Linked DNA regions of Homo sapiens: all the other regions are linked to region 1. The links come from fine-mapping of genetic effects on gene expression. A gene starts in region 1. Each other region holds a variant in brackets. All regions are shown on one strand. Distances are between the middles of the regions. Region 1 holds the start of PFKP (phosphofructokinase, platelet). Region 2 overlaps PFKP (phosphofructokinase, platelet). Region 3 overlaps PFKP (phosphofructokinase, platelet).

Region 1 (7,538 bases):
AAGAGCAGGCTGGGCCTGAGGTTGTCGGGTGCCTGCATGGGTCTCTGGGCAGCACTAGGATCCGATGGACCAGTGGGCCATGTGTGGGGCCTGTGACTCCCAAGTCAGCAGAGGAGATGCCTGAATTACATCCTGATAGGTGCACCCTGACTTTGAAGCTGAGGACACCCGAGGCATGGAGGTGGGGTGGAGGTGGGGGCAGAGCAGGGGATGGGGAGGGAGCCTGTGTCAGTCCAGGTCACAGGTGGTAGCTTGGCCCCAGTGGCTCCAGATGCAATGAAGAGCCAGGAGGGACCTTCCTGAGAGACTTGGATGCCAGGGTAGAGGAGCACTGCAAGGCTTCAGCCTGAGACCCTGGGAGGATGGGGTCACCAGGAGCTGAGGTGAGGAAGACCGAGGGGTGGGGGGTTGCGTGGGGGTGCAGAGGCCTAAGCTCAGTTTGGCCCCTGCAGATTTGAGATGCCTACTCCATGCACAGGCAGAAACAGCAGGGGAAGGGAAGAGGCTGCAGCTCAGGTAGCCCTGGTGGTGGAATGTGCAGCCCAACATGCCGGAACACAGGGTTATGGTGCCCTCATGGCTAGGAGCTGCTTTCCTCCTGGGATGGCAGGACTCCTTTAGGGCACATGGGCAGCTCCTGCGCTCACCGCAGAGGGGAAGTGGGAAGGGCATCTGTCCCTATGCATGTTCTCCTTCACCTTGTCCTAGGCAGGTCCCAGGCAGCACCTCCCCTCCCAGTGGCTCCCCGTGGCCCCTGCCCCTAGTGTTCACAGCCAGATCCTCGAAGAGGGCTGGACTCCGTTGCTCACTTCTAATGAACAGAATCAGGCAAAAGAGACGGCGGTCTTTCCTGAGATTGGATTGGGAAGGGCTGCAGGTTCCGTCCACTGGAATTCTCCCCCTGGCTCTTGACATGTGCTAGTTCTGGCAAAGCCAGTCACCTGCCCAGGGCAGAGGGCAGCCTGAAGCTGATGCCAGGGACAGACTGGGGCCTTCAGTCCAACAGCCTGCAAGCAACAGAATCCTGCCAGCAACACAGGAGTGAGCGTGGAAGCAGCTCCTCCCATGATGAGCCTGAGCCTTCAGAAGACACTGTAGCCCTGGGCAGACACCTGTTGCAGCCACAGAGGGCCCCTGGGGCAGAGGGCCCAGTGAAGCCTGTCTGAACTCCTGGTCCAAGGAGTAATCATTCCTGTGGTATAAGTGTGTGCTGGTGTGGGCCACAGTTTGCAGTAATCTGTCAAGGGACAATAAAGAACAAACACACATGTCAGGTCCTACTGGGTGGAAGCCGTACAGTCAACAAGGCATGCAGTATCTTCCTCTTGAATTAGAAGATTCATTGCTCAGGCCAAAGATTAAACAACAAAAAAAAAATCTCTAGTTGTAGCACCATTAAAATACACGACTTGCAAAAAAAAAAAAAAAAAAAAAAAAAAAAAAGAGCCATAGCTATGCTTTTCCATCTTAGCTACAGGTATATATAAATATATGTTAATTCCTTGACTGACTGAGCAATGGGTCAAACTCATGAGAATAGATGTGTGAGGACGGTCAGTGACCACCCTGACCCCAGCCCTTACATACAGACAAACTTTTGAACATAATCCATAACCCTGGGGATCTGGACACTCTAAATTTTATTGTTTTTAATTAACTATTTCTATTCCCCAAACAATACCTGTTCATTGGAGAGAAAAATGGCATTACCTATACTAAGCAAAAGAAAGGAAATAAAATGCTCAGAAACATTTACGTGTGTGCACACTCACACACACACTTACACGCACACGTGCGCACATGCAAGCACAGGCTCACACTGTGTCCAGGCCTGCCTTTTCATTTATTTGTTTGACCTGAACATATTTCCATGTCAGTCGACACTTATCTTCGTAGTGGTAACAGCAATTAAATATTATCGCAGCGTATATTTTTAACCATCATTTATTTAACTCGTCATGTTTGAACTGTTAGGTTGTATTTATCGTTTTCTGTATTACAGACGACTTGATGACAAATGACCAATCCTCTAATGTTCAATATAAAAATATCAATTGCATAAGGAGATAAGGGGCATTTGGCTAAAATAAAATTCAGTGTGCCCCACCCTCTCCACATGTAATTTGCTCTAAAAAGGCATGAATGACTAAATTAGCCCTTCTATTCTCCAGCGCAGCTCCTGAGCCCAGCGGTGGGTGCAGGTGCTTAGAGCCTGGCTCTGCTCTTCTGCCGCCAGAAGGCGAAGGGCACCCAACCCAGGATTCTCCTCTCCTTTTTTATTAATAGAAGAGTGCTCAGGCTCAGTGCATGAGAGCAGCGCTCTCTGACTTTGCACTTATCAGAGTAACCTAGGGGGCTTGTTTAAAAATACACATTCCCTGGCTGAGCTCCCAGAAATTGGACTTCAGTGGTTTAGCGGGAGTGTGCATAGGCCAGGTGATTCTGAGGACCAACAGGGGTTAGGAATTGCCCCGTTAATTCTGGCCAAGGGAGAGATCAGACCATCCAGCATTGTCCGCAGCAGAGTTTTTCCCCCTCTTTTGCAATGAATATTTGATGCTCAGAGGGATGAGCCCCAGGATGAGGCACACATCCAAGAAAAATCCATGCCTCTCCATCTTTTCCCCAGGATTGCCCTAAGGCGAGCCGCTCTTTGTGATTCCTTCACTTTCCCCGGTTCATAGAACAGGCCTCTTCTTAGTCTGTTTTGTTGTCTCTTATCTGTTCAACAAACACCCACTGCGCAGGACCATCCTCCGGTGAGCCGTCGAGTGGGGCCGTTTGGGAGCCCTTCTTCGTGGGTGAGCACTGAAGGAACCCGGGTCCCATAAGCCCGTGCTTCTATGGGGGCTGCCCCCTCTCCCATCGCAGGGTAACTGGCACCAGGCTGTTAAGCTGTGGATGGGCAACCGCACAGTGCATTGGATGTGAGTATTTCAGTACGTGGAGCTGGCCAGTGGAGCCGGCCGAGGTCAGGCAGAGCGTACAGCAGCGCGCGTGTCCGTGGGGAGGGAGGGTCCTCCCGCCTCCCCGCCTCCCCGCCAGGCCAGTCCTGTTGCGCCTCCTCCTGCCCCACTCTGACTTTCCAGCGCCCAGGCCGGGGCGCCGCCAGGGCGTCTCTGAGGGTCGCGCCCCGATACCTTCCTCCACCCCACGGCTTCTTCCCCCCAAGGGCGGGGCTGGGGGCCCAGGAGCACCACAGCCCCCATGGGCCCGGGAAATGGCAGCTTCGTCATGGCCCAGCCCGCCACGCTCACCTTTTCCCACCACCTGGAGGATCCACTCTCCGTCCGTCCTTCCCGACCTCAGGCTGCAGAGGAAACCTGGGGGCGGGGGTCGAGGAAGCCGAGCCCCGAGGCTCCCAGCGCCGCCCCAGGAGGAATCTTGCGGGCCACTAGAAGCTGTGCGCGCGGCCGGGCTCGGCCCCCACAACGGCCCGAGCGGCCGGGCCTGCCGCGAGCCTCCGCGTCCAGGTGGGGTCTCCGCGCCCCCATTCCACCCCTCCCCGCCATCGGCGCTCCCCGCAACTGCGGGGTTTCCACCCGCCCCGGCGCTCGCGCCCACTCACGGTCTCCCTCGCCCCCCCGGGAGATGCTCCCGGCGTTCTATCCCGCCCCGCCCTGGCGCGCCCCGCAAACGATGTGACCCCGGCCCCCTGCGGTCTCCCCTCCTCCGGACGCTGCCCCTGCCCCACCTGTGGCGCTCCCGTCATCTCTAGAGCCCCCAACCAGAGTCCTCCAGCCCACCCGCGAGGCTCGCGCACCTGCGATGCGGCCCCACTAGCAGGGACCCGCCCACCTGTGGCGCTACCCCTGCCTCTGCCGCCTCCCGCACCGCTAGCGCGGCCCCCACCTACGACGACCCCCGCGTAGATGCTCCTGCCCACACCCGCCCCAGCCCCGGCCCCTGCCCCTAGCCGCGCCCGCGCCCCCTCCCCCGCAGCCCCTCCCATACGCTCGGGCCCCGCCCGTCACCGCCCATTGGCGCTGGGGCCGGGCGGGGGCGCGGGCGGGGCGGCGGTTCCGAGTCAGGCGCGCGCGGGCAGGGTCCCCATTGCCTGCTGCGCACCCGGACGTGCGGCTCCCCTCGGCCTCCTCGCCATGGACGCGGACGACTCCCGGGCCCCCAAGGGCTCCTTGCGGAAGTTCCTGGAGCACCTCTCCGGGGCCGGCAAGGCCATCGGCGTGCTGACCAGCGGCGGGGATGCTCAAGGTGCGCGCCCCCCTCCCGGCGGCGAGGGAGGGACGGACGGACGGAGCTGGGGAGAACCGGGCGAAGGCGATGGGGTGACCGGAGAGAAGAGGGGGGAAGCGATGGGGGGGACCCGGGGAAAGGTGGCGAAGCGATGGGGAGAACCGGGGAGAAGAGCGGGGAAGCGATGGGGAGAACCGGGAAGAAGCCCGCGCCCGGAAGCGGCAGGGGTACCTGCGGGGCGGCATGAGCCGGCGAGGCAGCCCCGGGGTCCTTGCCCGGTGGGGCGGGGGAGGAAGGGACATGGCGGTAGGAACCTCCATCCGGAAGATCAGTGAGTTTTCCACCTTCGGTTTTGTTTTAAATGGAACCTGGCAGAGGGAGTCGCCTGAAGCGCCCTCGGGGGTCGTTCTGCCTCTGAGCTGTAGGACGGGGCCGGGCGTCCCCTCCGAAGCGTGGGTACAGCGCGATCACTTCCTAAGTGCCCCCCCGCCCCCCAACTCCGCCGCACGCCACCCCCTAGAATGTCGAGGAAGAAACGGCTGGGTCCCCGCGCGCCTCCTGTCGCCTCGTGCCCTGCGCGGCGTGGGCGGGGTCCTGGCTGCTGCAATGCGGGACGCGGCGGGGGTGCGCGGGGTTCCCGCCTGGCGTCTCCAGGGCGGTCCGGCAGCCCCTCGCGTTTCCGCTGGGAGATTTTTAAAAAGGGTTTCCTGCGCTCGCATGTGCTGTCGCCTTCCGGCTCGTGACAAAAACGAAAACCAAAATGGGTCCCAGGCCCTCCCCGCCAGCCTCCGCAGACGGGAAGGATCAGGAAGCGGGGACTCCGGGATGTCAGCGGCGCCGCGGCGCGGGCTCCGGGCTTCCCTGCCCTGCAATGTGGAAGCTGCTCTCTAGGAGGGGCCCGAGGCTGGGCCCACGGACGCGGGCGCGCCGGGAGGATATTTAACATTGAAGAGCGGAAGGTGGCGGAGACTCGGCGCGCCCCAGGCCCCGGGTGCACGTGGGGGCGCCGGTGCCCGGATGATGGAGTGTCCCGATCCGTGCAATCCCTGGCGGGTAGATCGGCGCTTCCCAGGCGAACGCAACCTGGGAGCCTTAGCGATCGCGCAGGCTGGAGACGCGGCGCGCCCCGAGCTGGGTTTTGATTTTTGTTTTCCCGGTTCCTCCTGCCGCAGATGCGTGGAAAGGCCCGGATGGCGGATTTCCTCCCGTTTCGGGGCCGCGCACTGCACAGGGTTGGAGCGGGGATGCACCCCCTGCCCACTGCGCGGGTGACCTTCCCTTCGCCCTTGAGCGCGCGGGGCGGGCGCGGGTGCCGCAGGTTGAGGCGCTGTGGGCGCCGCCCCGCCCGCCACGAGCGCCTACGTGATGCCCGGCCCGTCGTCTCCACGAGCCCCGGCCCCGACACCCGTGCGCCGCGCGCTCCCCAGGCCCGCAGCGCAGCCTCCCCAGGCCCAGCGCCCCCCGCGGGAGACCCGGGTGGCAGCGCCAGGCCCCGCCCCGCAGCCCGCCCTGCAGCGCCCCCGGGAAGTGCTCTGGCGTTAGCATTCCAGTAAAAGGACCCCAGCATCAACGTTCTTCCTGCAGGGCTGGGTTCTCAGAGAAAGAAAACGTGATGCAGCAGAGGATGGGATTGAAGAAACAGGAGAGTGAAGTGGAAATAGCCTGGCCCGCGTGACTTAAACCGGCCCGGAGATGTGCGGGTACGAATGGAGCCGCCTTGGGGTCGGGATAGGACCCAGAGTGGCTTCTCAGTCAAAGGCCTTCAGAAGCAGAGGGAGCACCTTGAGTGACCTTACCTGGGCCGCGAAAGACAAGAAACCTTTGGCACAGGAAGAGGAACTGATCTCTGGAAGCCACCAGGGCGGGTGGAAAGTCAGGGTTTCAAGGTTATTTTGGAATTTAGGTGCTGTGGGCCTTGTACGGTGGCTCATGCTTGTCATCCCAGTGCTTTGGGAGGCCGAGGCAGGAGGCTCGCTTGAGCCGAGGAGTTCCAGAGCATCCTGGGCAACATAGTGAGACTCTGTGTCTACAAAAAAAAAGAAAGAAAAAAAATTAAGATACTGCATGTATTGGAAAATATTTATGGGTCATTCCTTTGAGCTCCATGTCCAAAAGCTTGCTAAAATGCGCGGGAGTTTGTGTACAGGCATGTGAGATTAGGATACATTGGCAGAATCGCGGTGTTCTCTGTTACCCTGGTTTTGCCACCTGGGAGGAGTTAGACATATTGAAGGTTAGTAAGTCCACGCCTCTTCTTTTCTGGGGAAAATGATACTTTGGAAACCAATATTATGTGGGGAACGCGGCTTGGTTGCTGCAACCTCGGGTTAATAGGAGACAGCTGCCCTCAGCTCTGCAGGTGGCATCAAATATGGTGGCCTCGAGCCCACATGGGTCACACCTGGGCTGTCCCTGGGGAAGCCCGCCATGGCGGGTCGCCTGGGCACTCTTTCCCTGGCAGAGCTGAAGTCACAATTTTTTTGTAGACTCTGTAAAGAGCTTTACCCTTCGGTGATACGATCTTGAACCTGTTGGAGCATTTGGACGCATTTCTTTTAAGGAAGTTCACCTCCAGATGTACTCAGAGGGCCTGGTCTTAGCTGCCACAGATTTACAAACCCTTACAGTAAGTAGGTTATTCCTCGAGAATATCTCAGTGTCCCCATTCTTTTACCATTTTATTCTGATTCTATGTTAGTACTTGATTTTCCCTGACATAGAAGACTATTGCTTGTAGCTAGAGATGAGAGAACATATTCACATTCACGTATTAATTTCAGGGGAATTTTCTGTCAGATGTGAAATTATGGTAAAATTCCGTATATTAAGATGATCATAGCTACCATTTGTTGAAAACATTTTGTATTCTAAGAGCTTTACACTTCTTATCTCCAAGCCTAAATACATGATCCCAAGAGAGGCGTGTCCTCATTTTGGAAGTGGGGAGAAAGACTCAGAAAGAAAAGTAAGTTAGGTAAGGGCATGAGGTGCATACGTGATTGTGATAGGAGCAAAACAGATCTTAATTCCAAATATTGTACTCTCCCGTAGACCACGAAGAGTACTTATGTCTGGCTGTGTCACCCAGGCCAGAGTGTAGTGGTGCCATCATAGCTCACTGCAGCCTCAAACTCCTGGGCTCAAGTGATCCTCCTGCCTCAACCTTCTGAGTAGCTGGGAAGACAGGAATGCACCATCATGACCAGCTAATTATTATTATTATTATTATTATTATTTTTGTAGAGACAGGATCTCACTATGCTGCCGAGACTGGCCTTGAACTCCTGGCCTCCTGTAGTGATCCTCCTGCCTTGGCCTCCCAAAGAGCTGGGACTACAGACATG
Region 2 (7,538 bases), 30 kb after region 1:
TCACCGTGTTAGCCAGGATGGTCTCCATCTCCTGACCTTGTGATCCGCCCGCCTTGGCCTCCCAAAGTGCTGGGATTACAGGCGTGAGCCACCGCATCTGTCGTAGCATTATCTTTTATTACATGTTTATATGCCAGCCAGGTCCCATGCTGAATTCTTCATGTATGATCTGCCTTCATCCCACCACCATTTACACCATTGCCTGTGGCTTCAGACAATCTAGTTTCAGTGAACATTTCAAACTGCAGAAGAGCACCATCTCCCTTCACCACCACCTCCCCACCACTGTGGTCAGCTGAATGAGCCTCAAGGTGGGGTTTGCTGTAAGGTCACTGCCAGGCCAGTGCTTGGGACCCTCTCTCTACAGGGGAGGAAGGGCGACCGGCCTCGCTCCTGCTGGGGCTGTTGGTTGTACAACTTACCGGAATTGTGCACTCTTAGCTTTGGCTTAAAGAAATCTGTGATGCCAGAGGGCTAAATACATCATGCTGTTGCATTATTGGTCTTCCAAAGAAGCAAGTGCAGGACCACATGATGGTGTGTCGTGTGCTAACCTATTTTAGAATTTTACAGTTGACTGAGTCTCCCAAGAAGAAATCCTGAGGCTGCTCTATAGAAATTTTCTATCAAGTAATGAAATCAGTGAGGGTGCTTTGCTGGGGTGATTGGTAGGGTCTCTGGACAAGAGCGTTCCTTCAGAGTGTTGGTGGGGAGGTGAGCAGGGCTTGGGATGTGTGTTGGTGTGGGGCTGTTTAATCTCAGGCTCTGCCTCTGAATTTCCTAGAGACAGGATAAAGCCACGATTCCTGGCCTTTGAAAACCATTGACATAGTGAAATTCCTGCCGCCTCTCTTTCTCGCACACCTAGTTTGGAACGCTGGTGTTTCCCAAGTCTAAGCCTAGAGAGCCGTTCAGAGCTGACCTCTGCATGCATGCTCTGAATTCTAAAAGTGAAATGCTTTAATTTATTAAGGAATGTTGTAGCTTTAGGTTCTGTGGGGGAGGGAAAAGGATTAAACTAGGGAAAGCTTGATTCTGTAGGAAACAAAAAAAATAGTATTTACTCAGAAGCAGCAAAGCCCCTACATCTCTGGATGCAGTAACTATGTCTGCAGGAAGCTGGTGATAACACTATCTGGAAGGCACTTTTAAAGTCTGTTATCTCTAGGAGCTTGTTTTATTCTGGTAGTTGGAATGTTCACCATTTGGAGTTAGTTGAGTGAAGAATTCAGGAAATCAGATTGGAAAAAAGCATTATCCAGTTGAGAAGACACATGGACCCATGCAACAAGCATTCTGAAAGAAAAAGCCTACTGCTGCAACACAACGGTATAATTTCCCTTTGTCTGTAACTTTAAAAAAAAAAACTTACATATGAGACGTCCGAGAAAGCCACCCATAGGTGAACTACGCGCATAGGTGAACTAGCTTACTCCATTTATGATGGATTCGGCGATTGCCTAAAAATTCTAGTCAAAACCACCTCTACATATAGAATGATCTCCTACATGGTTAGAAGGCTGGTTATTTTGACACAGCTCAAAACAATTTCGAATAAGTTGAAATGACTTCAGAGCCTGTGGCATGTTCTTAGATGTGATCGAATGACTCAACGTAAAAAATTCTGTCCGACGATGGATCCGATACAGCCAACGAGGAGCTCTAAGGTTCATCTTGTGAGTCAGAGTCAACAAGACAGAGAATGTTACTTTGGCCAAAAAACTGAGATAAGGTTAAAGGTTTTATGCTCTGTTTTTCCTATGTGAGTCATAAAACTGGCTTGGAAGGCAAATTCCAAAAGGGTGTTTTAGGAAACGTCTGGGCTTTGGCTGTAGTAAGATAAATATTCAGCCTTCTAAGAAGACTTCAAAAGAGAAAACTCATCTGAATTTCTACGTTGTAGTACGTTTGGGCAAAATGAGTCTTCCTAATTTAGTAATATCTTCCTTGTTGGTGAAAGACGGCTTAGAACTGCGGCTGGTAGTTGCTTTTCACATGTTCCATGGGCGTCGTGACTTTGCAAATTAAAGAATGAGTCATTTCCTAGCAACTTAGCTCACGCATGCACTAGACAGGGAGCATTGGAGGTGGCACTCAGAAAGCCCTCCCTTTCTATTTTTTAATGGCTTTCTTTGCCACATGCATCTATGCAACACAAAATAATGAAATTACTTTCAGAGAACATTTTACTTTTCAAAATGTTGTGGTTTGCAGAGCAGTTTTCTTACTACTCCAGAAGCAAGAGGATTCGTTAACATGTTTGATTAAATCCGTATTTAAATTCTGTGAACTCATGCAGGGAAAGGAAATTGTATGGTTCCCACTATGGCATATTAACTAGTAAAATGCTGGGTGGCGGTTGACTTGGAAGCAGCGTCCGGGATAGCGCGTGCTCCAGGAATACTCTGAAAGCTGATGCCGTTAGGGGTGCATGGTTGACTCCTGGGCCTGAGACGGCCTCAGGATGCTGCAGCGGCCTTGGCATCCTCTTCAGCAGGGTGGCGGCCGGAACTGGCACCTTCCCCCCGGTCTCTTTATTTACCAAAAAACTGCATGCACAGAAATGACCGCAACAGCTCTGGGTGTGGGAATGTAGGAACTGTCTGTTTCAGTTTTGCCGGAGCCCCAGGTTTACGGCCGCTCTACATCCCAGTCCTCTCAGGGAGGTCCCGGTTTCTGCTGCAGTTCAGGCCCCATCATGGGTCATCTTTTCTCTCCTCCTGAGATGTGGGCTTGGAGGATGGGAGGTCGTGCCTCTAAGAAGGGTCCGTTTCACGGTGGCCCAGGCTACATGCCTGCTTCCTTGTTTCCTTGCCCCCCCGAGCTTCATGGAAGTCAATCTGGAAAGTCAGGATCACTGCAGATGGCAGTTTGTTCAGTGTTGCTCCCAGACCTGAAGAATGGAGCGCTCTGTTGTGCTTGCAGAATGAAGCATAATTCTTAGCAGAAACCTGGGAGGCCGGGTGCGGCGGCTCATGCCTGTAATCCCAGCACTTTGGGAGTCCGAGGCGGGCGGATCACGAGGTCAGGAGATCGAGACCATCCTGGCTAACACGGTGAAACCCCGTCTCTACTAAAAATACAAAAAATTAGCCGGGCGTGGTGGCGGGTGCCTGTAGTCCCAGCTACTAAGGAGGCTGAGGTGGGAGAATGGCAGGAACCCGGGAGGCGGAGCTTGCAATGAGCCAAGATCACGCCACTGCACTCCAGCCTGGGTGACACAGCGAGACTCCGTCTCAAAAAAACAAAAAACAAAAAAACCTGGGAGTTTGGGGTGGTAGAGATCACTGAAACTGCAACCCCAAGGCTAGGTTATCTCTTTATTTATGTATCCACCCACCCGCCTACCTACCTATTGTACTTACAATATTCTGAGGATTATGGCCTCCAAGAGTCATTCATGGCTTTGCACATGACCGTCTGTTACCAGTGAGTCCTTGTGTGGACAGAGCATCCGCAGCAGGACAGAACATAAACGGTGCCTCCCAGGGTGCCCTGTGCAGAGGCG[A/G]GGTCTGCATCCGACCTCACACTTGCTCACCCTCGCCCTCCGGGGGACGGCTACACTGGGCTCATCTGCACTGCAAGGGAAATCTGTTTTCAGAGCAAGGGGAGACAATAATAATAATAATAATCCCTAGAGTGAGACTGGGCTGTGTTTAGAAGATGTTCTGCTGTTTTGCCATGGAGGTAGGGGGCCTGGTGATGGGCAGTCCCTGTACCAGCCTGTGAGCCAGGGCCTGGGTGCCTGGGGGGTCTCGGGAGGTGCAGACGGGGCTGCCAGCGCTGAAATGAACCAGCTCTGTTTTGGGTTCTGTTCCATTCCAGACTGTTTTCTCCTTTCTTGTTTATTACATGTATGACACTAAATTATAAACACACATGTGGCCAGGCATGGTGGCTCACGCCTGTAATCCCAGCACTTTGGGAGGCCCAGGCAGGCAGATCACTTGAGGTCAAGAGTTGGAAACCAGCCTGGCCAACATGGTGAAACCCTGTCACTACTTTAAAACAAAAACAAAATTAGCCAGATGTGGTAGTGTGTTCCTGTAATCCCAAGTACTCTGGAGGCTGAGGCAGGAGAATTGCTTGAACCTGGGAGATGTAAGTTGCAGTGAGCCGAGATCGTGCCACTGCACTCCAGCCTGGGCAACAGAGCAAGACTCTGTCTCAAAAATAAAATAAAATAAACACACATATATATATAATATTTCTGGTAGAAATTTATAAATATAAGTATACAAATTGGCCAGCTATCAAGGTGCCTGCACTATTGATTAATTTATATATAGAACTCCATAATCTATGAGTCATTTCAATTTTAAAAACCTTTCTTTTTTCTGTCCTCCGGACCTTCACTAAGGTGGGCTTATGGATCCAACAATAATCTATCATGAACTTTTCTAAATCCTTAATAGTTATTCCTTCTTAAGATTAAATGCTGTGGAAAGTGAGTTATGTAGATGAAGTTACCCGTGGGCATTGCTGCATTTCCTGATCTTGTATATTCCGTGGAGAAAAAGATGGGGATGCATTTAGCATTGAAAGGTAATTGTTGGCCAGGCGCGGTGGCTCACGCCTGTAATTCCAGCACTTTGGGAGGCTGAGGCAGGCGGATCATGAGGTCAGGAGTTTGAGACCAGCATGGCCAACAAGGTGAAGCCCCGTCTCTACTAAAAGCTACAAAAATTAGCCAGGTGCAGTGGCAGGCACCTGTAATCCCAGCTGCTCAGGAGGCTGAGGCAGGAGAATCACTTCAACCCGGGAGGCAGGTTGCAGTGAGCCGAGATCGCGCCACTGCACTCCAGCCTGGGTGACAGAGTGAGACTCCGTCTCAAAAAAAAAAAAAAAAAAGGTAATTGTCCTTGGGCTTCTTCTATCAATGTGTCCTCACATATTGATATCTGATTCCCTAATGCAGCACCGTGTCATTAATGGAGGGTAAGGCAGACAATTATTATTCAGCTGTGCTGTTTAATAATATTCAACATACATCCCAAGTGGCGCAGGGTGCCTTGGCAGGCGGAGCCCCTGACAAAATGCTCCCATGTATGTCCCGTGCTCGACAGTGCTGTGTGCCTGTGAGTTTGTGCTGAAGTATGATAAACACGTTGGGTGAAAGTGACCCCTTTCAACCTCTAGCGAAACACGACCCTTTCAACCTCTCGGGAAACGCTGGGCCATAGGAGAATGGCTTGATTCCTCATTGCACTGTGAGGCTGAGTCTAGGCAGACGTTCCCATTACTAGGGACTCAAGGTGAGGACTTTCCCACAATTCACTGCTTTTATCCAGTGCTGGAACTGCCCTGTCTTCTGACCAGTGGATGCTGAGGAACTGACATTCACTGTCATTTTTCCCGTTTTATATAATTTAAGGATCACTTCCCATTTAGTGAAGTTTATCTCATTTTTAAAAGATTCTCCCTTTCTCCCCTAGGGCTACCAGGGCATGGTGGACGGAGGCTCAAACATCGCAGAGGCCGACTGGGAGAGTGTCTCCAGCATCCTGCAAGTGGTAGGTACTGGGCTGCGTCCACAGGGTTCTCTGAGTTAGAGACTCTTTTATGTCTAGTAAATTCCCAGAACACTTGAGCTCAGATCAGTTGCGAAATAGAGATTATGTGGACAGAACAGACTTTGTGAGCAGCTCTTTACTTGTGGTTTGATTTTTAGAAATGCATGTGTTAATCTGTGAGTCACTTTGAGTACTTGTTAATAGAAATAATCCAAATCGGTGCCTCCCCGCTGAAGACGCTCATGGGGCCCACACCTTCGTGCTGGTCCAGGCTCTCTCTGCATTGGGCGCCTCCTGAGCTCCGACACATCAGAAGAGAGGTGGAGGGAATTTTGACAACCACGGAAGTTAGGTGGAGCAACGTTTGCAAAACATCAGGAGAGTGTGGGCTGAATTCACACAGGGGAGCGTTTCCATTCTGCGGTCGTGATTGACGGAGGAAGATAAGATGTGAACGGAGAGTTGAAGTGCGTATGTGTATCAGTGAGTCTGTGTTTCTGTGTGTGGTGTATGTGGTGTGTGAATCTCGGTGTGTGTGTAACTGTGTGAGTCTGGTGTGTGTCTGTATGTAGGTGTGTGAGTCTGAGTGTGTATGTGTGGTGTGCCCGTGTGTATGTGTTAACTGTGTGAATTTCTGGCTAGCGAATGTGTATCTGTGTGTGGGGTGTGTGTATATGTGGTGTCCTTGTATGTGTAGGTGTGTGGTGTGTGTGTGTGTGTGTGTGTGTGTGTGAAAGAGAGTGAGTGAGAGAATGGGAATGGCACCCACTCCTCTGCAGCCCAGTTATCCTGGTTTCGTTCCTGAGTTGCGGCCACCTCGTCTCTTTGGTTGGAGTTTCTGGGTTGCTGGCTCTAGCTCCCATTGTGCTGGCTCTCGTGCTGCCCCCCAGGTTTTTGTCCAGGCAGAGTCCAGAGAGCACCCCTGCCCTGCTCTGCGCCCCCACCCTCACTTGCCTTGGGGGTTGGGTTGTAAATGGTCTCGGTCACACTTGGTGCCAGTGACGTAGGATCGTGTGGAGTGAATTTCAGTTTTTGTAACCTTTTCATAATGTTTTGATAAATTAAATGGTGGTAGGTTTCATGTAAAAATAGGAGCTTTTCTGGGATTTGGAATATTAGTGAGTCTCTGTGTGTGAAAATGAGCTGTGTGCGTGCACCATTGGTGTATCGAAACACGCACTCACGTCACTGCAGGGGTCTCCTGGGAGCTGCCTGCAGACCGAAGGCAGGGAGAGCTTCGCCTCCAGTGCAGAGACAACCCCTGCTGTGCTTATGAGCACCTTGCTTGACAAAGTCAGCACGCGCTTAGGGATCCCGTACGGATGGAGTTTTTTGGTGCATTCATGGTTTTATTTAAAGAAATCTTGCATTTGTGGATCCCACCAACAATTCTTAGTTTTTGGAAAACCAAGTGTGACGAATCATGATCTATGTCCCCTGGAAGTTTGGATGAAAGAATTTAAGATCCTGAAGATATAGCTCTTTAAAAGGGGCAGCGAGTATGTGGTGCAAAAAAAAAAAAAAAAAAAATCCCCCTGGCCCCAGGTTCCTGCTGGTTTTACTTGCAGGTGCTGTAAGGGGTGACTGGAGGGAGAAGCCTGGCTGCTGGTCACACCGCTTCCCTTGTCCTGGCCGGCATGCTCTGGTGGTCAGTGGGCTTGTCTTTGGTTCCACGTGCACCTGGTTGAGCTCGTTGGCCGGTGCTGAGGCGGCTGCTGTGACACCGCAGGCTGGTTCCTGCTCCATGTATTTAACTGCTGGCTGCCGTGTGTCTGGCTCTGCACCCTCCCTGGCTCCTCCTGGGTGTCACGCGCCTGTCTTTGTCCATGGAATGCTGGTCTGGGACTAAAAACAGGAAAATCACAGTCTTTCATAGCTAGTTACTAACTCACAAGATGAAAATGAGAAAAATGTAAATTCTAGCACCCCATGTTTATAGTCGGCCTGTGTGTGCCATCCACCTGGCGCTCTCTCAGACTGAGAGGAGATAAATTAGCTGGTGTCTTTCCCAGGGCGGGACGATCA
Region 3 (6,034 bases), 54 kb after region 1:
TGTTTTGAGATGAGATTCCTGGTCATTCTGCCATCTGCCAGCCACAACGGCATGAGTGAAAAGGCAGACGTTTACCGCTCCTTAATTAAAACCACAGACTGGGGAAGGCGGCCGGGTGGGGACCGGCGTGGCGTCCTGCGGACCGCGTGGAGTTTGGGGTGTCTGACATCGTTCTCCACGTGGCTATTTTCAGCGTTCTCCCGGGGAAGTACTTGGAAGAGATCGCCACACAGATGCGCACGCACAGCATCAACGCGCTGCTGATCATCGGTGGATTCGAGGTACGTTACCGTTTCTCTCTTGCCGGTCTTGCAGGTGTGAGCCGCGCCCTGTGTTGGCTAAACATTAAGCTACTTGTTGGCTACTGGCCACGATCCGAGATGATAGGTTCCCAGACCCAGCGGCCACTGGAGAATTGTAGAACAGCAGGATAGCAGGTGGTAAGACGTGGCCTACGAGTGGCCCAGTTCCAGTAAAGCAACTTAACCGAGAAGCAAAAGCTTGACTCCTTAACCCGGGCCTCATCTATTCAGTGAGCTCTTAATGTATTTCAGGCCTGTGGAAGTAATTCTATCTCTTGAGTCCAGAGTCCAGTGGCTACTTAGAGACTAAGGTAGTTATACCTAGAATTTTGTTTAAAATCACATATTGGACTGTAGACCCTAATATTTTTTCTATTCATGAAGATTAGTCCCATGGTAACCTTTCCATTTACTTTTAGAAAAAGTAAAAACTGGCCGGGCGCGGTGGCTCACGCCTGTAATCTCAGCACTTTGGGAGGCCGAGGCGGGCAGATCACCTGAGGTCAGGAGTTCAAGACCAGCCTGACCAACATGGTGAAACCCCGTCTCTACTAAAATATAAAAATTAGCCGGGTGTGGTGGCAGGTGCCTGTAGTCCCAGCTACCCGGGAGGCTGAGGCAGGAGAATCGCTTGAACCCGGGAGGCGGAGGTTGCAGTGAGACGAGATTGCACCACCTCACTCCAGCCTGGGCCACAAAGCGAGACTCCGTCTCAAAAAACAAAAACAAAAACAAAGTAAGAACCTCAGAAATGAGACTCTTACCCATGAGAGGTTTAGTCATCTAACCGATCATGTCTGTCCTGCGCCCTTTGTGCTTACAACCTGCCGATCCTTGTCTGTGGTCTTAAGGCAACTGTGTGTTGATCTCGGAGTGTTTTCGTGATGCCCCAGTGTGCTCCCTGCGTGCTGTGGTGGAGGTGGCGCTCCCAGCCTCTCCCAGCGAGACCCTCTCCTCCCCAGCTTCCCTCTCGCCCCACAACTCCCACGCTTGTCTGACAGGCCTACCTGGGACTCCTGGAGCTGTCAGCCGCCCGGGAGAAGCACGAGGAGTTCTGTGTCCCCATGGTCATGGTTCCCGCTACTGTGTCCAACAATGTGCCGGGTTCCGATTTCAGCATCGGGGCAGACACCGCCCTGAACACTATCACCGACGTAAGTCCGTGTGCGCCCTGCCAGGCGGGCGCCGGCTGACGCTAACCCCGGGGCCCCGGCCCTTTTTATCTACCAGTGCGCTAGAAATAGCCTTTTACAAATACCCTGAATGAGAGCTTCTCGTTCTTTTTTTCCCCCAGAAAAGTATGTTTTAAGACTCTGAAAATTTTTGATCTCACTCCCAGAGAGTTTTACCACCTCTTCTTCTGTGTGGCCACCAGGGGGACGTAGTGTGGCCGAGACTCCAGGGGTGCCCGTGAGCACCCGAGGCGCTGAGGAGGGCTGGGTCGCAGTCTCCTGTGATTGTACCAGCATTAAAAATCGCTGTGTGTGTGTGTGTGTGTGTGTGTGTGTGCTGAGCCTAAATTTTCTTTGAGCCTCCAATACCCATTATGATGAACCCCTGCCTTGATGCTGAGGGTAGAAATTGAACTGAATATTTTATAATTTTATTCATTGCCCTGAATGCACCATTGCATTTGTTATCTCTCTGGTCTTGGCTGTTGACCTCATTTTCCCCTTTGTAAACTGGGGATGTTAAATTACCTCTAAGGCAATAATTGGTGCTACTTTAGTTTTTTTGCCAAGAGACAATAATAAAACATAGAAATATATTCTTCTTTTTTTCTTTGTGGGACGGGGTCTTACTCTGTCACCCAGGCTTGAGTGCGGTGGTGTGATCTCAGCTCACTGCAGCCTCGACCTCCCGGGCTCAGGTGATCCTCTCACCTCAGCCTCCCGAGTACCTGGGACCACAGGCATGTGCCACCATTCCCGGCTAAAAGAAATATACACCTATTCCCATGTTTGTGTGTCACGCTTGGTAATTGATGTGGGAGTTTGAAGATCCGTACCTAACACAGAAAGCATTTCATTTTTTTAAAATTTGATGTCTAAAAGTTTGTAGTAATTCTCAAGTTTTAATTTTTCTTGTGAGACTTGGTTCTCATGAATATTTTTCAAAGATATTTTTTCTTGTAAAACCTTGGCATGAAACTTATTTCTAGCACTGGTAAATAAAAAAACAAGCTTTTAACATACAGCTCATATGGTAAGTAATGCTTAGCACTCGTTTCTTGCTTTTCTGAGCGTTTTAAACTTTCTTCACTTTCTTTGCGAAGGAAACCTGCCCAGGTTTTCCTGTGTTCACTGGCTTTGGGGGCAACTTTCACCTTATTTTTGGCAGTTGCTAATCTCTGACCTAGACGTTGCTTCTGTTCTCCTGGTGGTGGGTGTCACGGCTTTGCTGCTGCGGGGCTGGCCCGGCTCTGGACCTACCTTCGCACTGTGAATGTGAAGATGAGCCTCTTTCACAGACTGGATTCCGTCATTGCTTTCACTGCTCTTTCGCCTGCTTTAGCTAGATTTTTGGGTCTGTGAAAGTTGGGTGTGCAATGGGAGGGACTGAAGCTTCTTTTTTCCCTAATTGTTACCTAATTGGAACTCGCCCAGAGGGAACGGGTGGAGAATTTGAGAGCGGTCGCTGCAGTTAGCTGAGTTTCTTTTTAATTCCAGGGTCCTCTGCTATAAATAACT[GTTTTT/G]TTTTTTTTTTTTTCAGATTGTAAATATGTAACAAATGCATAGGGTCAAATTTATGAAAACCAAAATACGTGGGGCAAAAACACCCCACAAATGATCATTTCCACCTGCTTTTACTTCCCTTGGAGGGATTGTGTGATTTATTATGCGATTGTTTTAAATGCAGTTTTTCATTCATTCGAGTTTCTCGAAGCTAGGTTAAACAATTTCTTTTTTTTTCTTTTTTTTTTTTTTTTTTTTTTTTTTTCTTTTTTTGGAGACAGGGCCTCACTCTGTTTCCCAGGCTGGAATGCAGTGCTGCAATCGCTATTCACTGCAGCCTCGACCTCCCAGGCTTAGGTGATCCTCCCACCTCAGCCTCCTGAGTAGCTGGGACTACAGGTGGGTGCCACCGTGCCCAGCTAATTTTTTGTATTTCCATAGAGACGGGGTCTCCCTGTGTTGCCCAGGCTGGTCTCAAAACGTCTGGGCTCAAGCAATCCCCCTGTCTTGGGCTCTCAAAGCACAGGGGTTACAGGGATGAGCCACCGCGCCGGGCCTGAAGTTAACTGATTACAATGTCTGAGAAAGAACTGGAGCGTGTAGTTAGTTGAGCCTCCCGTTGGCCAGGCACAGCCACCTTGGTAAGTGCATGTGTGTGTCCTTGTTGCCCTTCTGATCCTGAGCTCCAAGGAACAAGGCTGTCTTGGGAGTGCGGTGGTTCTAGTCTCGTGATGGGTGAGTGGCGCCGTCTGACCGAGGTCACCCTGGCGAATGCTGTGGCTGCTGGGGAGCTGGGACAGAGAAGAGAAAGCCGCTGAGGGTCCCTCTGTGGACCCTGAAGGGAGAGGGACCGATATGTGAACATGGCAGCTGTTTTCTCCAGAGCCCTGTTTACTGACGGCCGAACAGTGTGAATCCTGAGAAGGTTTGGATTTGGGTCTGAACTGGGCTCGTCTGGCCATAGAAGAACATGAGCTGGTGGCGTCCTCAGGAAATCAGGGTGTGAGGCAACTGGACGTGGATGGCTCCGGGTCCCCCCGGCCACTGTCCTGAAGCCGCCGGAGGCTGAGGACGCATGGGAGTGAGCGTCTCTTCCCTGTCCGGCCACACCCTCTGTGACTGGTGACTCATGGCATGGCCCTGGGCAGCATTTAGGTTTGAGGTCTGTAGATGGCTCCAGTATACTGGCTTCTATTGTTCAGAAAATTTGGTGATTCTCATGGGGGCAGGGGTGGTGATTTTGCCCCAGGGGATGTTTGCAACGTCCAGGGAGGTTTCTGGTTAGAAGTGGGAAAAGGGATGCTCCCAGCATCTGGGGCTGGAGACAAGGGACGCTGCGGAACGTCCCTCAGAGCACAGGGTGGGCTCCATAATAGGAGTCTGGCTCAGGATGTCGCCGTGTTGTGCTTCGGAAGCCCTGGGCGGGGCTGATGTGGTGAAGCCTCATCTTCTCTGGACACGTGCGTCCTCGTCCTCTCTCATGATTTCCTTCTTGCCAGCATTGATGCTTAGCCCCTCAGAATCTATGCGGTGCTGGTGAGTGGTCCTCCGGGCAGAGCAGAAGGAATGAGATACCTCAGAGCCGGTGTGACACGTTCTCAGGATACGGCTGCAGGGAGTTTCAGTCCGACCCTTTCATTCCTTAGCACTGGCCCATTACTCCGTCCTGTAAGCTCGATAAGGTCACATCAGAAGCACAGTAAGCTGCTGCCACGCTGCCGTCAGCTGCCGCGAAGGTGGCAGTGACCACAGCCTCGTGACTGATTCACAGCCTGGCTGCGCTTGGTCTTGAGAATTTTATGTTTTGCTGGGCAGGGTCTCCCCCGTATTGAAGCTTCCCTTCCCTTTTTTGGAGACTGAAGGAAGGAAAAGAGGAGTGATAGGGAAGAGGGGAGAGAGGATTTGCAGCATTGTGGCTGTCCCCACAGATTTCAATGTGGAGTTAAGCTGCCGAGACCCCCACCTGCCCTCCTGTGTGCCTCAGGCCCCTCCTGGTCCCAGGTCACCCACACCGTCTGGCTTCCAGCGAGCGCTTCTCGGAGAAACAGCCGGCTCCCCACAGCCAGTCTTGGTCAGTCCTGAGCTCGGGTATTCCACAGTAAAGTGAGCGACATCACCTGTCTGAAAAGCATAAGGAGACTCCCACGTGGCGGTGCTGAGGGGCCACATCCTGGGCACCAGGCCAGCCAGTGCCCCGACATGAGTGTTGCTGGCTGGGAAGCAGCTGGCATTTGGATTGAAGTCCTGCAAAAACTGCCATGGCCAGAGCCTGCCAGGCAGAGCCTGCACAGAGCGGCCCAAGAGCTGGGCACGTGCTGGGCCTGGGTGGAGGTGGAGGCTGTGCCATGGGGTGCGGGGGACCCTGCTCACAGCTCACCTTGTGGTCACCCAGCACTGACCCCGTTCACAGCTCGCCTTGTGGTCACCCAGCACTGACCCACCCGCCCCACCCTCCTATCCACCGTGCTGTGAACTCACCTGCCACGGGTCTACACCCACTGTCCGAAGCCCTCGGCCCACACGGGCTCCAGGCCTTGGGATGCTTTGCGTTGCACCAGGGCTGCAGAGCCCAGATCGCTCACTGTCCGACTCTCCCAGGGAGGTGTGGGCGCCGCCCTGTGTCCCACCAGTAGCATTTCTGCAGCAGATGTGGGGATATTCACAGTAAGACGGACACGTCCAAGACCATAAATAGTTGGTTTTGCCACCACGTGGATGTCAAAAACACCTTGCTGTGTGGGGCCACTTGGAGGTGGGAACAGTGGGCGTGTGGACCTGTCCTGCTGTGACTTTGGTTAACACCCTGAGGTGGAGTCTGAAAAACCCCGGTGTACACGGGCTCAAGAACCGCTCCCCTTTCTGATACCGGAGCGCATTTCCCAGTGGAACCCCAGAGCAGCAACTCAGGTTCTTGCTCGCCTGTGCGGCTTTGTGTGCGGCTTGCCGAGGGCAGAAACGGCAGCTTCCGCCCGGAGAGCAGAGATGTGGCGTGGGGCTGAGTGTGGCCCACCGGTAATCCAGCTGCATGCCCCCTTCCCTGCCTGCACCTGGGCGCCG

Evidence for each region. PIP is the estimated chance that this variant, and not a neighbour inherited with it, causes the effect.
Region 2: its variant is fine-mapped to the expression of PFKP in whole blood (Lepik 2017, PIP 0.95).
Region 3: its variant is fine-mapped to the expression of PFKP in B cells (Fairfax 2012, PIP 0.95).

What each region holds. Positions count from the first base shown.
Region 1 is chr10:3,063,496-3,071,033 of GRCh38, forward strand. It overlaps PFKP (phosphofructokinase, platelet), which reads left to right and starts at 4,053. Exons shown (of 22, transcript NM_002627.5): 1 at 4,053-4,212. The coding sequence starts at 4,101. It overlaps LOC124902536 (wiskott-Aldrich syndrome protein family member 1-like), which reads left to right and starts at 3,075. Exons shown (of 1, transcript XM_047426132.1): 1 at 3,075-3,853. The coding sequence starts at 3,208. The coding sequence ends at 3,645. PFKP-DT (PFKP divergent transcript) reads right to left here and starts at 3,438. Exons shown (of 4, transcript NR_160681.1): 1 at 3,258-3,438. RefSeq lists enhancers at 1-291, 5,092-5,161 and silencers at 3,782-3,881, 3,892-4,291, 4,712-4,891, 5,305-5,485, 5,572-5,771.
Region 2 is chr10:3,093,840-3,101,377 of GRCh38, forward strand. PFKP (phosphofructokinase, platelet) reads left to right here. Exons shown (of 22, transcript NM_002627.5): 3 at 5,436-5,513; 4 at 7,526-7,538. Among named protein-coding and RNA genes, the nearest start is that of PFKP, 30 kb to the left of the region's middle. RefSeq lists an enhancer at 1,312-2,511. The variant A/G (reference allele first, on the strand shown) is at 3,509.
Region 3 is chr10:3,118,589-3,124,622 of GRCh38, forward strand. It overlaps PFKP (phosphofructokinase, platelet), which reads left to right. Exons shown (of 22, transcript NM_002627.5): 15 at 194-281; 16 at 1,304-1,456. Among named protein-coding and RNA genes, the nearest start is that of SNORD142, 12 kb to the right of the region's middle. The variant GTTTTT/G (reference allele first, on the strand shown) is at 2,993.